Homo sapiens: one gene and its partners. The protein of the gene in region 2 purifies or fractionates together with the protein of the main gene of each other region. This does not show direct contact. Each region holds a gene or a part of one and is shown on either strand. Other genes may lie near its edges. The genes, in order: IGF2BP3, RBM42 and ZC3H18.

Region 1 (3,649 bases), on a different chromosome or scaffold from region 2:
TTTATAAATTAGCCAAAATTCGGGGACTTGGAACTCCTAAGTACCTTTCAACGCTTTCCCTTTCATACCACTGCACAGGTTTTGCTGAAGTACTTGCCGTTTTGCCTCCTTTTCCAATAACTCTGCCAGCAGCAAAGGATGGCACTCTGATATGAGCTTCAAGTTTCACCTCTTCTTTAGGACTAACAAAGTTTTCTTCTTTAATTTTTCCATAAATTCTTCCCTGAGCCTGCAGATGAAAACACATCCTATTAGTGTCATTCATGTATGAAATGGAAAAGGTCAGTTAACTTGAAAGATGGCCCAAATCCAAGTGGGATAGCCCTTTGCAGTGATACATCTACATTTCATAGATTGTTGAAAATAACATAGAAGAGAGCAGTTAGAAGTCCTAAAAGGTTGACAATAACTACTGCCCATCACAGTAGAGGCAACTGAATGCTTGGTGAAAGAAGGATAAACCATATTCTTCTGATGAAAACAGTTAAAGGCAATTAATAACCTAATAAAAACGAATTTTTGTGGGCAAATGGCCATTCGTACTAAAATTGTGATAGGTAAAACTTCTCATGCTGGCCATGAGACATCAGTTGCATTTTTCTTTCCTTTTTGTTGGAGTCAGGGTCCTCCTGTTGTCCAGGCTGGAGTGCAATGGTACAATCATAGCTCACTGCAGCTTCAACCTCCTGGGCTCAAGCGATCCTCCTACCTCAGCCTCCTGAGTAGCAGACTACAGGCATGCAACACCACACCTGACTTATTTTTTTTTTTTTTTTGAGACGGAGTCTTACTTTGTTGCCCAGGCTGGAGTGCAGTGGCACGATCTTGGGTCACTGCAACCCCCGCCTCCCAGGTTCAAGTGATTCTCCTGCCTCAGCCTCCTGAGTAGCTGGGACTACAGGCACTAGCCACCACACCTGGCTAATTATTTTTGCATTTTTAGTAGGCATGGGGTTTCACCATGTTGGTCAGGCTGGTCTCGAACTCCTGACTTCAAGTGATGTGCCCACCTCAGCCTTCCAAAAGTGCTAGAATTACAGGTGTGAGCCACTGCGCCACTAATTTTTATAGAGATGGGGGTCTTGCTATGTTGCCACGCTCATCACAAACTCCTGGGCTCAAGAGTCCTGCCTTGGCCTCCCAAAGTGTTGGTATTACCAGTGCAAGCCACCACACCTGGTCACATTTTTTTTGAGCAAAAGAGACAGAACTGCAGAGTCAGCTATGCCAAGCTCACTAAAAGTCAAGCTCACATCTACATGGGCCAGTTAGAAACCTGCTGAGAAAAATGTTTTCAATTTAAATGTGTTTCATACTCTTAGAAAGGTGGTTTTTCCTTTGAATATTTTAAAGAGGCTACAACATCAAGGTAAGACACTTTTTTCTTTTTTGAGACAGAGTCTCACCCTGTCATGCAGGCTGAAGTGCAATGGCATGGTTTCGGCTTACTGCAACCTCCGACCCCCGGGTTCAAGCCATTCTCCTGCCTCAGCCTCCCAAACTAGCTGGGATTACAGGTGCCCGCCACCACACCCAGCTAATTTTTTGTTGTTATTTTAGTTGAGACGGGGATTCACCATGTTGGCCAGGCTGGTCTTGAACTCCTGACCTCAGGTGATCCACCCACCTTGGCTTCCCAAAGTGTTGGGATTATGGGCATGAGCCACTCACTGTGCCCTGCCTTTTATTTTTTTTTATTTTTTTATTTTATTTTTTTTAGAGACAGAGTCTCTTTCTCTGTGGTGCGATCTCAGCACACTGCAACCTCTGTCTCCTGGGTTCAAGTGACTCTCCTGCCTCAGCCTCCTAAGTAGCTGGGATTACAGGCATCCACCACCATGCCTGGCTAATTTTTGTATTTTTAGTAGAGATGGAGTTTTGCCATGTAGGCCAGGCTGGTCTGGAACTCCTGGACTCAAGTGATCTACCCACCTAGGCCTCTCAAAGTGCTGGGATAGCAAGCGTGGGCCACCGCGCCTGGCCAAGACACTTCTGATATTTAGAGTCAATACATCCTATCACCTACTGCATGCAACTATATAAACAACCTATTATATATAAACAACCTATTACATACAGCAAAGCAGAAAGGAGCCTGAGAGTTGGTTTGACAAGCTGCCAGGGTAAACCACAAAAAACAATAGTACCCAACACGCGTTCACTGATTCAGAAAGCTGAGCTCATTTTAGGGCACTACCGACAAAACAAAATTCATCTTGATACCCTATATTCCAATGATCCTTAATGCCTCAGGCCAATGACGTAGATATTACTATTACTTAAGACAGTCAAAAAGACACTAGGGATATACACTATCCTCCAAAACTGAAGCTCTTGAATTTGTAAGGAAAAATACGGGGTAGGTGGTTTACCATTCCTTAGATCTCTAAAGTAAAACATTCATTTAGCATTGTCACCAATCACATAAATAAAATTTAACTACTATGGCTTAAGTGTTACATTTAAGTTAACTATAAAACATGAGTTTTATTAGTGAATACAGGGAAAGAACTTTGAAGTTCCTATCATACAAACATCATAGGAGTTGCAGGACAGTAATTCTACTTATAAGACTAAAAGCTCAGCACCAAGGAAAGACATGTTTGTATTTATCTTTTAAGATTTCAAACTAAAAGTGACCCTGAGAGTTTGGGATAGGAAGCAGTTTTCAACAATTCTGAGTTAAGATTTGAACTGCCTGGATCACAAGGCTGCTGTGAAGGAATAAATTTCTTCACATGATTTTCTTTCTTCACCTAACCACCCACATCTCAAAGCACCTCCTTCGTTTCCCATTCTTCACATAAGTGAAAGCAGCTTTGGGTTTTTAGTGAAAAAATGGCCCAGAGAAAATAGAAGTCAAAGAAAGTGATTTTTTTTGTTTGATTTAAGGGAGAGAGGTGGGGTGGGGAGAGAACTGTATGCACTGTTACTAGTTACTGTTACACTTTAAGGCTAAAAAAACTAAGGCTTGGCCAGGAGCACAGTGGCTGATGCCTGTAATCCCAGCACTTTGGGAGGCTAAGGTGGGCGGATCACTTGAGGTCAGGAGTTTGAGTGTGTGGCCAACATGGTGAAACCCCATCTCTACTAAAAATAAATTGGCTGGGCGTGGCGGCACATGCCTGTAATCCCAGCTACTCGGGAGGCGGAGGCAGGAGAATCGCTTGAACCCAGGAGGTGGAGTTTGCAGTGAGCTGAGATCACGCCACTGCAGTCCAGCCTGGGCGACAGAGTGAGACTCTGTCTCAAAAAAAAAAAAAAAAAAAAGAGAAAAAAAAAACTACAGCTTAAGGTTAAATAGTTGTCTTCTTACACAGCCACTAAATGTTCTAAGACAAGACACCCATACTAAATTTTGTGGGAGAAATCATACACTAAAAGGAATATATTTATGAATTTGGCATGGTCTTAGTCTGATTCATCCATAGTCTGTTGAATACCCCCAGCACGCTAATTTTGTGCTGCCCATGTGTTAGGCACTTTTCTAAACATTTCATATATTGTGTAAACCTTAAACTACCTTAGGATGTAGGTGCTCTTATCCCTGGTTTTACAGAAAAAGGTTAAGTAACTTGCCCAATGTCATACAAGGCAAATGGCAGAGCTAGGATTTGAACTAGCAGCCTGGCTGCCAAGTCTCAGCTCT
Region 2 (3,224 bases):
CAGTATTTATCTCCTAAGAAAAGAGATATTTTGGCCAGGCACGGTGGCTCACACCTGTAATCCCAGCACTTTGGGAGGCGGAGGCAGGTGGATCACTTGAGGTCAGGAGTTCAAGACCAGCCTGGCCAACATGGTGAAATCCCGTGTCTCTAAAAATACAAAAAAATTAGCCAGGCTTGGTGGGAGGCACCTATAATCCCAGCTACTCGGTTGGCTGAGACAGGAGTATCGCCTGAACCCAGGAGGCAGAGGTTGCAGTGAGCCGAGATCAGGCCACTGCACTCTAGCCTGGCAACAGAACAAGACTCCATCTCAAAAAAAAAAAAAAAAAGAAAAGAGATACTTTTTGCATATCATAATACTATTATCAAGTCTAAGAACATTAACTAATTCGGTATCTTCTTTTCAGTTTATATTCGTATTTCCCTAGGTGTCCCAAAACTCTGTTAGAACTATTAATGTTTTTGCCCTGAACCAGCATGCATGCAGTTTTATGTCCTTCAATTATATCTTTTTTTTTTTCTTTTTTTTTTTTGAAACGGAGTCTTGCTCCATCGCCCAGGCTGGAGTGCAGTGGCGCAATCTCGGCAGCTCACTGCAACCTCCACCTGCCAGGGTCAAGTAATTCTCCTGCCTCAGCCTCCCGAATAGCTGGGACTACAGGCGCGCACGACCATGCTTGGCTAATTTTTGGTATTTTTAGTAGAGACGGGGTTTCACCATGCTGGCCAGGCTGGTCTCGAACTCCTGACCTTGTGATCCGCCTGCCTCAGCCTTCCAAAGTGCTGGGATTACAGGCATAAGCCACCACGCCCAGCCTCGATTATATCTTAATAAGAACGGTCTCTTTCCTGCCTCTTTGTTTTGTACATATTTTTTGAAGTGTCCAGGGCAGTTGTCATGTATGATGTCCCACCTTCTGAGTTTGTCCGGTTGTTTGCTCCTGGCATTGCCTAACTTGTGCTTAGAGTGTCCCATATCACAGACGCCATGGGGCAGCCGTGCAATGGCTGAGGAAGGAGATGGACCCCTCCTGCTTCAGTGTTTGACTTCCACCCCCTCTCCTGGGACCGTCTACCTGGCCCAGAGAAGACCCTAGCTCTGTGACCTTGGGCAAGTCACTTAGCCTGGTTTTGTTTTGTTTCTTCTTTTGTTTTTTTTTTTTTTCTTTTTTTTGAGACAGAGTCTCGCACTGTCACCCAGGTTGGAGTGCAGTGGTGTAATCTTGGCTCACTGCAGCCTCCGCCTCCTGGGTTGAAGCAATTCTCCCACCTCAGCCTTCCGAGTAGCTGGGATTACAGGCACCCACCACCACACCCAGCTAATTTTTGTATTGTTTAGTAGAGATGGAGTTTCACCATGTTGGTCAGGCTGGTCTTGAACTCTTGAGCTCAAGTCATCCACCTGCCTCAGCCTCCCAAAGTGCTGGGATCACAGGCGTGAGCCACTGTGCTTGGCTCACTTAGCCTTTTAAGCCTCATATTCCTCATCCCCTCCCTTGTGGGGACAGGGATTCATTGGGACAGAGCATGTTCAGTGGAAGCACAGGCCCAACTCAGAGGCAGCATGAGAATGTCAGCTGGGTGCAGCCATGGCGGAGGAGCAGGCAGCATGTCCAGGTCTCAAGGGGGAGTTAGGGCAGGCCTTGCCAAGGAAGCAGGGCTGAGGAAAGATGAAGCCCATGTTCCTGAGGTGCCATGACGGGCAGCCAGTGGGTGACAGGGGTCCAGGGGACCAAGGGACACCAAGGCTCAGAGGAAAGGCCAGGGCTAGGGCAGAGTTAAGGGTGTTACTACAGGAATGAGTGAGGTGGCCCTGGGGTGGGGAGGGCAGTGCAGTTCAAGGTTAAAAGTAAGGACTGGAGCCAGATGCCTGAGCTCTTGTCTTAGCTCTGCCGCTTCCTGCTTGTGTCACTGTGGGCAGTGACTTCACCTCTCTGTGCCTCAGTGTAAAAGCATGGTTGGGAGTGCCAGAAATGGAAACACCCCTCCAGGTGCCAGCAGAGCTCCTGGCGCAGGGTCAGTAGGTGTTGACCATTATTACTAAGAGGTCCCTAGGCAGAGACTAGATACCTCCGAAAAGGTGGGATCGTTCAGACAAGGTAGACACTGGGCAAGGCCTCTGCATCCTCTGATGTCATCTCTTCCCCATCCCCAGATGACTTCCGGATCTTCTGTGGGGATCTGGGCAATGAGGTGAACGATGACATCTTGGCACGCGCCTTCAGCCGCTTCCCATCCTTCCTTAAGGCCAAGGTGATCCGTGACAAGCGCACAGGCAAGACCAAGGGCTACGGCTTCGTCAGCTTCAAGGACCCCAGCGACTACGTGCGCGCCATGCGTGAGATGAATGGTGGGTGCGGCCTCCCCTGGGAACTGCAGGCGCGGCAGGCGCTGGCCTAAGCCTGACCCGAGCCTGCCTTGAACCCTCTGTCTCCACAGGGAAGTATGTGGGCTCGCGCCCCATCAAGCTTCGCAAGAGCATGTGGAAGGACCGGAATCTGGACGTGGTCCGCAAGAAGCAGAAGGAAAAGAAGAAGCTGGGCCTGAGATAGGGTCTGTGGCCAGGCACCCGCTCCCACCTGGCCGGGCGCTGGCTCCTCCCTCAGTTCTCTTTGGAAAACCCCCAGCTGTCCACCCATCCCCTGCCCCAAAACCAGTTTCAATAAATTTACGTTCATTTCCACCCCTGGCTGGGCATGGAAGCACGCTGTGGGGAGCAGGGCTTGGCTTCCCCACAGCTGGAAATGGCGGGGAGCCTTGAGAGTTTACCCAGGCAAACACCCAGGCGGGGGCTTCTGAGCCCTTCCTGCGCACCCATTCCCTCTTCAAACCTCTTCCACACATGCTGAGTGCTGCTTATTCCAGAGGAGAAAGGGGGGCCAATGGCAAGGGTGAAGCCAAGCTGAGGCCCATCCCCGTGTCCTGGCTACTTCCTGTGTTCTCAGCACCAAGGTAGGAGATCTAGGCCCTTCCCTTCTGGAGCTCACAGGCTTCTAGGCCCTCTTCCATCCAGCAGACTCTCACCAAGGGTCTGAACAGTGCTTGAGGACACAATGGTGACTAAAAGTCCTGGGCCCTGCACCGTTAGAGCTCAAGGTCCAGTGCAGAAAATAGGCCCGGTGCCCTGACGATAAGAGCCCAGAGTGGTCAGGGCAGGATGGGGGCGCTGACCTGTGGGTGAGGGGGCCCTTCCTGAAGGAACCGTCCACCCCCAAGTCTCCT
Region 3 (3,649 bases), on a different chromosome or scaffold from region 2:
ACTAAAATACAGAAAATTAGCTGGGCGTGGCAGTGTGCGCCTGTAGTCTCAGCTACTCAGGGGGCTGAGGTTGAATCCGGGAGGCGGAGGTAGCGAGATCGCGCCATTGCACTCCAGCCTGGGCAACAAGAATGAAACTGTCTCAAAAAAAAAAAAAAAAAAAAAAATCTTTTTCTGTGGAGATGGGGTCTATGTTGCTCAGGCTGGTCAAGTCCTGGGCTCAAGCAATCCTCCTGCCTTGGCCTCCCACGGTGCTGGGATCACAGGTGTGAGCCGCCGCACCTGGCCCACAAAGCTTTTCCATGTATTCTCTTCTCAGATGTTTTTATCGGCTTCCCCACCCCCTCAGGCCGGTTCCCTCGACAGGTGTGATAGGTCACGCAGGCCCAGCCTCTGCCCTGCTGGGCTGGAAGCTGCCGGCTCCTCCCCAGGTGCAGGTGCTCTCTCAGGGTGCTGGGCATCAAGTCAGCAGGGCAGAGGCACCTCCTCCTGACCTGAGTGCCCCCGAGTTTGTGAATCTTTTTTTGGTGGGGGGAGGGGGTCTTCCTATCACGAGTCCTGGCCCATTTTCTCCTGTGTCAAAGCTTCAACCGCAGCCTTCCACAGCCCCAGGGTGACTCAGATCCAGAAGGGCCCCAGCCCACCTGTGGGAGACAGCCCAACCCACACTGGCTGCTTCTGGGACTTCCTGGCCCCGACGGGGAGGGAGAAACAGAGGCACAGGGTGATGGGGATGACCTGGATCGGGAGCTGGAACCACTATAGCTGCTACCACTGCCACTGCCGCTGCCGCTTAGCGTCCGCCTGTAATACAAGCAACAGCGGGGCTCAGGGGGCGTGGCCTCCACAGCCCCTCGCGGCCTCCCCTCCCCACCAGCAGCCCTGTGAGGTGAGCCTCCAGACTGGCCTTGCTACCACCTTGGAACAGGGCCTGGGCCTGTCTTCCTTTAGGCTCAGTGTTTTGTCAAGATAAAAAGTACAGTCTCTCGGGGGCAGCACCTTCCAGTGCAGACGGGGCCATGGCGGGAAGGCCTGTGCTCCGTGCCACGCTGTCCCTTCCCCTTCACGCTCCAGAAACACAGGCTCAGGGAGGGGACAGGGCAGGTTCCCGGGTAAGGGCTCACTGGGTGCTGCTCGGCTAGGGGGCGCTTCCCACCACCTGGCTCTGGACCCTGGCACTCTGGATTTCCAGCAGTGCCAGCATCACAGTGGCACCAAGAACACGGAAAGCCTGAGGGCCCCGGACGCCGGAGTGCTCACCTCCTGGGGGGGGTCCTGGCTGGCCGCTCCTTCCTCCTGGCTTCCCGAGGGTCTCCTGGCTTGGTGGGCTCGGGGACAGGAGCAGTGGTTTTGGTGGCCTGTGGTGGGGCTGGAGGCGGGGCCGGCTTCTTCACTGACTTCTCTCTGTGAGACAGGGAGGCTCGAGCAGGGCAGGGCTGGTGGACGGGGCCCCGCTGGCCTACATCCCCTTTCAATGGACCCACAGCTCGGGGAACGACACTGCATGCCTGTGACGCTCGGTGAGCACGCTCGTGCCTGGACACGGCTCCCCACCCATCGGTGTCAGAGTGCTTGGGAACGGCTTCAAAGCCCCCAGCAGCCCTTCCAGGCTCCCCTCTAACAGGCAAGAGCTACAGGCACCGCCAGGCAGTGGGGAGAGCAGGCTAATAGGAAGACCCCTTAAGAACACCCGGCTGCTGCCGTGTCCCCAGGGCTGTGCTCTGTCCCCAGGGTTCCCGAGGGAGTGCTGCTGTGTAAGGGTGGCCCGTGAGAACAGGAGCTGTGCCCAGTGCCTCCCAGCCCAGTCACCCCCTGGGGCCAGCCCCCTGAGGCATCCTCACCTCTTTGGTCCCAAACACAAATGAGAGATAGAGACGGAGGGAGGAGGCTGCAGCCTGTGGAGGCCTGGCCGGCCAGGACTTGCCCACAGGCTGGGCACTCACCCTGCTTTCCCGGGCGGCGGGGCCGGCTCTCCCTTGGTTCTGATGGAAGGTCTATGTGGGGAAGGTGTTGGGGACGGGGACGGGGACGAAGAGAAGGACCGGGACCTAGGGGAGTGAACAAAGGTGTCGGAAGGGGCCTGGGGGTGTTTCTTCACCAGCCCAAGCCCACTGAGGACCCACCCAGACCCATGGAGAAGGCCACGAATTTCCATTTATGTGCCTCAGTTTTAACTTCAGTTCTGGACTGTTCTGTCATCTGCTAAAAACACAGGCCCAGAGTAGACCAGAGAGCGTGGAAGGTGTCAGCATCCACTGGCGGGTCCTCCGGGAGGCGAGTGTCACGTTCATGTGTGTGCAGGACAGGAGGAGACAGGCTCCTTGGCAGTGGGGCAGCAGCACAGCTCCCATAGAAACACCCACAGGACAGGGCTGGGTCTGGCCCCTTCCTCGGCCTGTCTGCGGAGGACTGGAGTGCCTCAACTCGAGGATCTCAGGCTGTGGCCCTCAGTGACAGCACGCATCTACACAAGGACGAGGGCCCGCAAGGCTGGTGTTTGGTGGGGGACACAGGACACGACCCCCTGGCCATCCTAGTTCAGCTGCCAGCAGGGACCTTCAATACCCCAAGGGGCTACTGGCGCCACAACTAAAGCCACATCCGCAGGTGCCCTTGCTCACTGCACCTGCTGAGGGCCCTTCATGGGCCCTGGGGACATACCTGGACCGGCTTCCTGAGAACGAGCTGTGTCTGGAAGAGCGGCTGGAGTAGGAGCTGTAGGATGAAGACCGGGATCGCGACCGGGAGGAGCCGGAGCCAGAGTAGGACGATGACCGCGAAGACGACCTGGGGCGGGCGGGACGGAGCGTGGCGAGAAGTGAGAAGGGCCCTCCCTGCCCCACACGCCCTGACGCACACATGCACAGCTACACACCCACAGACGCACAGCTACACACAAGCGCACAGCTGCGCACGCGCGCACAGCTGCAGACGCGCGCACAGACGCATACAGCCTCCCCCAGACACTCTTCAGTGCCATCCCTCCTTGGTGCAGAACGGCATTTAGAAATCAAGACCTGGGCGTGGGGTGTGCCTGCTGTTACCGGGTGGCGCTGCCTGAGTGGGCAGACCCAGCTCACGTGGGTCCGTGTGTGTGTCTATCTGTTCATCTGCATCCACTTTCAGTGAAGCCTGGCCTCCCACCCACACCTCCTGTTCCTGCCGAGCATGATGGGGTCTACCCCGGCCCCCTGCTTTCCATCATCCCTCACTCGGGAGCCGGGCTCCTGTGTGCTGAGACCAGGACCGTAGGTGGAGGGGCAACAGTTTCAGGTCCAGTCTGGAGGAACAGATGGACTCACTGGGCCCCAGGTCTGTGCGTCCTCCCGCATCCAGGTGCCCCTCCCTCCAGTGTGGCCTGTGACTCCCTGGGAGCAGTCAGGCTCAGTCGCCGGGGTCTGTGCCCCATTTGGGGTCACTGCGTCAGTCCTACTTGGCATTGATGCTCTTTGCTGAAGGTATAAACGCCGGGTTAGTCCCACTGACTGGTCTGCAGGTAACGACGCCACAGCAAACAGTGGGGCTGGGGTGTTCCCCACCTGACCCAGTGAGGTACATGGTGTCAGCTGACGGCTCCAAGGTGCTGACACCCCAGCCGTCCCACGAGCCCTCCTTACCTGGAGGAATTAGAGGCAGAGGCTGACGAGGC

Evidence for each region.
Region 1: the proteins of RBM42 (region 2) and IGF2BP3 purify together in Homo sapiens (co-immunoprecipitation; 2 studies listed by BioGRID and IntAct, with this or other methods). This does not show direct contact.
Region 3: the proteins of RBM42 (region 2) and ZC3H18 purify together in Homo sapiens (affinity purification with mass spectrometry; 2 studies listed by BioGRID and IntAct, with this or other methods). This does not show direct contact.

What each region holds. Positions count from the first base shown.
Region 1 is NC_000007.14:23,313,425-23,317,073, forward strand, and holds part of IGF2BP3 (insulin-like growth factor 2 mRNA-binding protein 3), read right to left. Parts: intron 230-3,649; coding exon 98-229; coding exon of another isoform or gene 45-97; intron 1-44. UniProt on the Homo sapiens protein: RNA-binding factor that may recruit target transcripts to cytoplasmic protein-RNA complexes (mRNPs). This transcript 'caging' into mRNPs allows mRNA transport and transient storage.
Region 2 is NC_000019.10:35,635,001-35,638,224, forward strand, and holds the end of RBM42 (RNA-binding protein 42), read left to right. Parts: intron 1-2,157; coding exon 2,158-2,352; intron 2,353-2,441; coding exon 2,442-2,554; 3' UTR 2,555-2,685; downstream 2,686-3,224. UniProt on the Homo sapiens protein: Binds (via the RRM domain) to the 3'-untranslated region (UTR) of CDKN1A mRNA.
Region 3 is NC_000016.10:88,622,357-88,626,005, reverse strand, and holds part of ZC3H18 (zinc finger CCCH domain-containing protein 18), read right to left. Parts: coding exon 3,618-3,649; intron 2,788-3,617; coding exon 2,662-2,787; intron 2,049-2,661; coding exon 1,944-2,048; intron 1,405-1,943; coding exon 1,261-1,404; intron 805-1,260; coding exon 739-804; intron 1-738.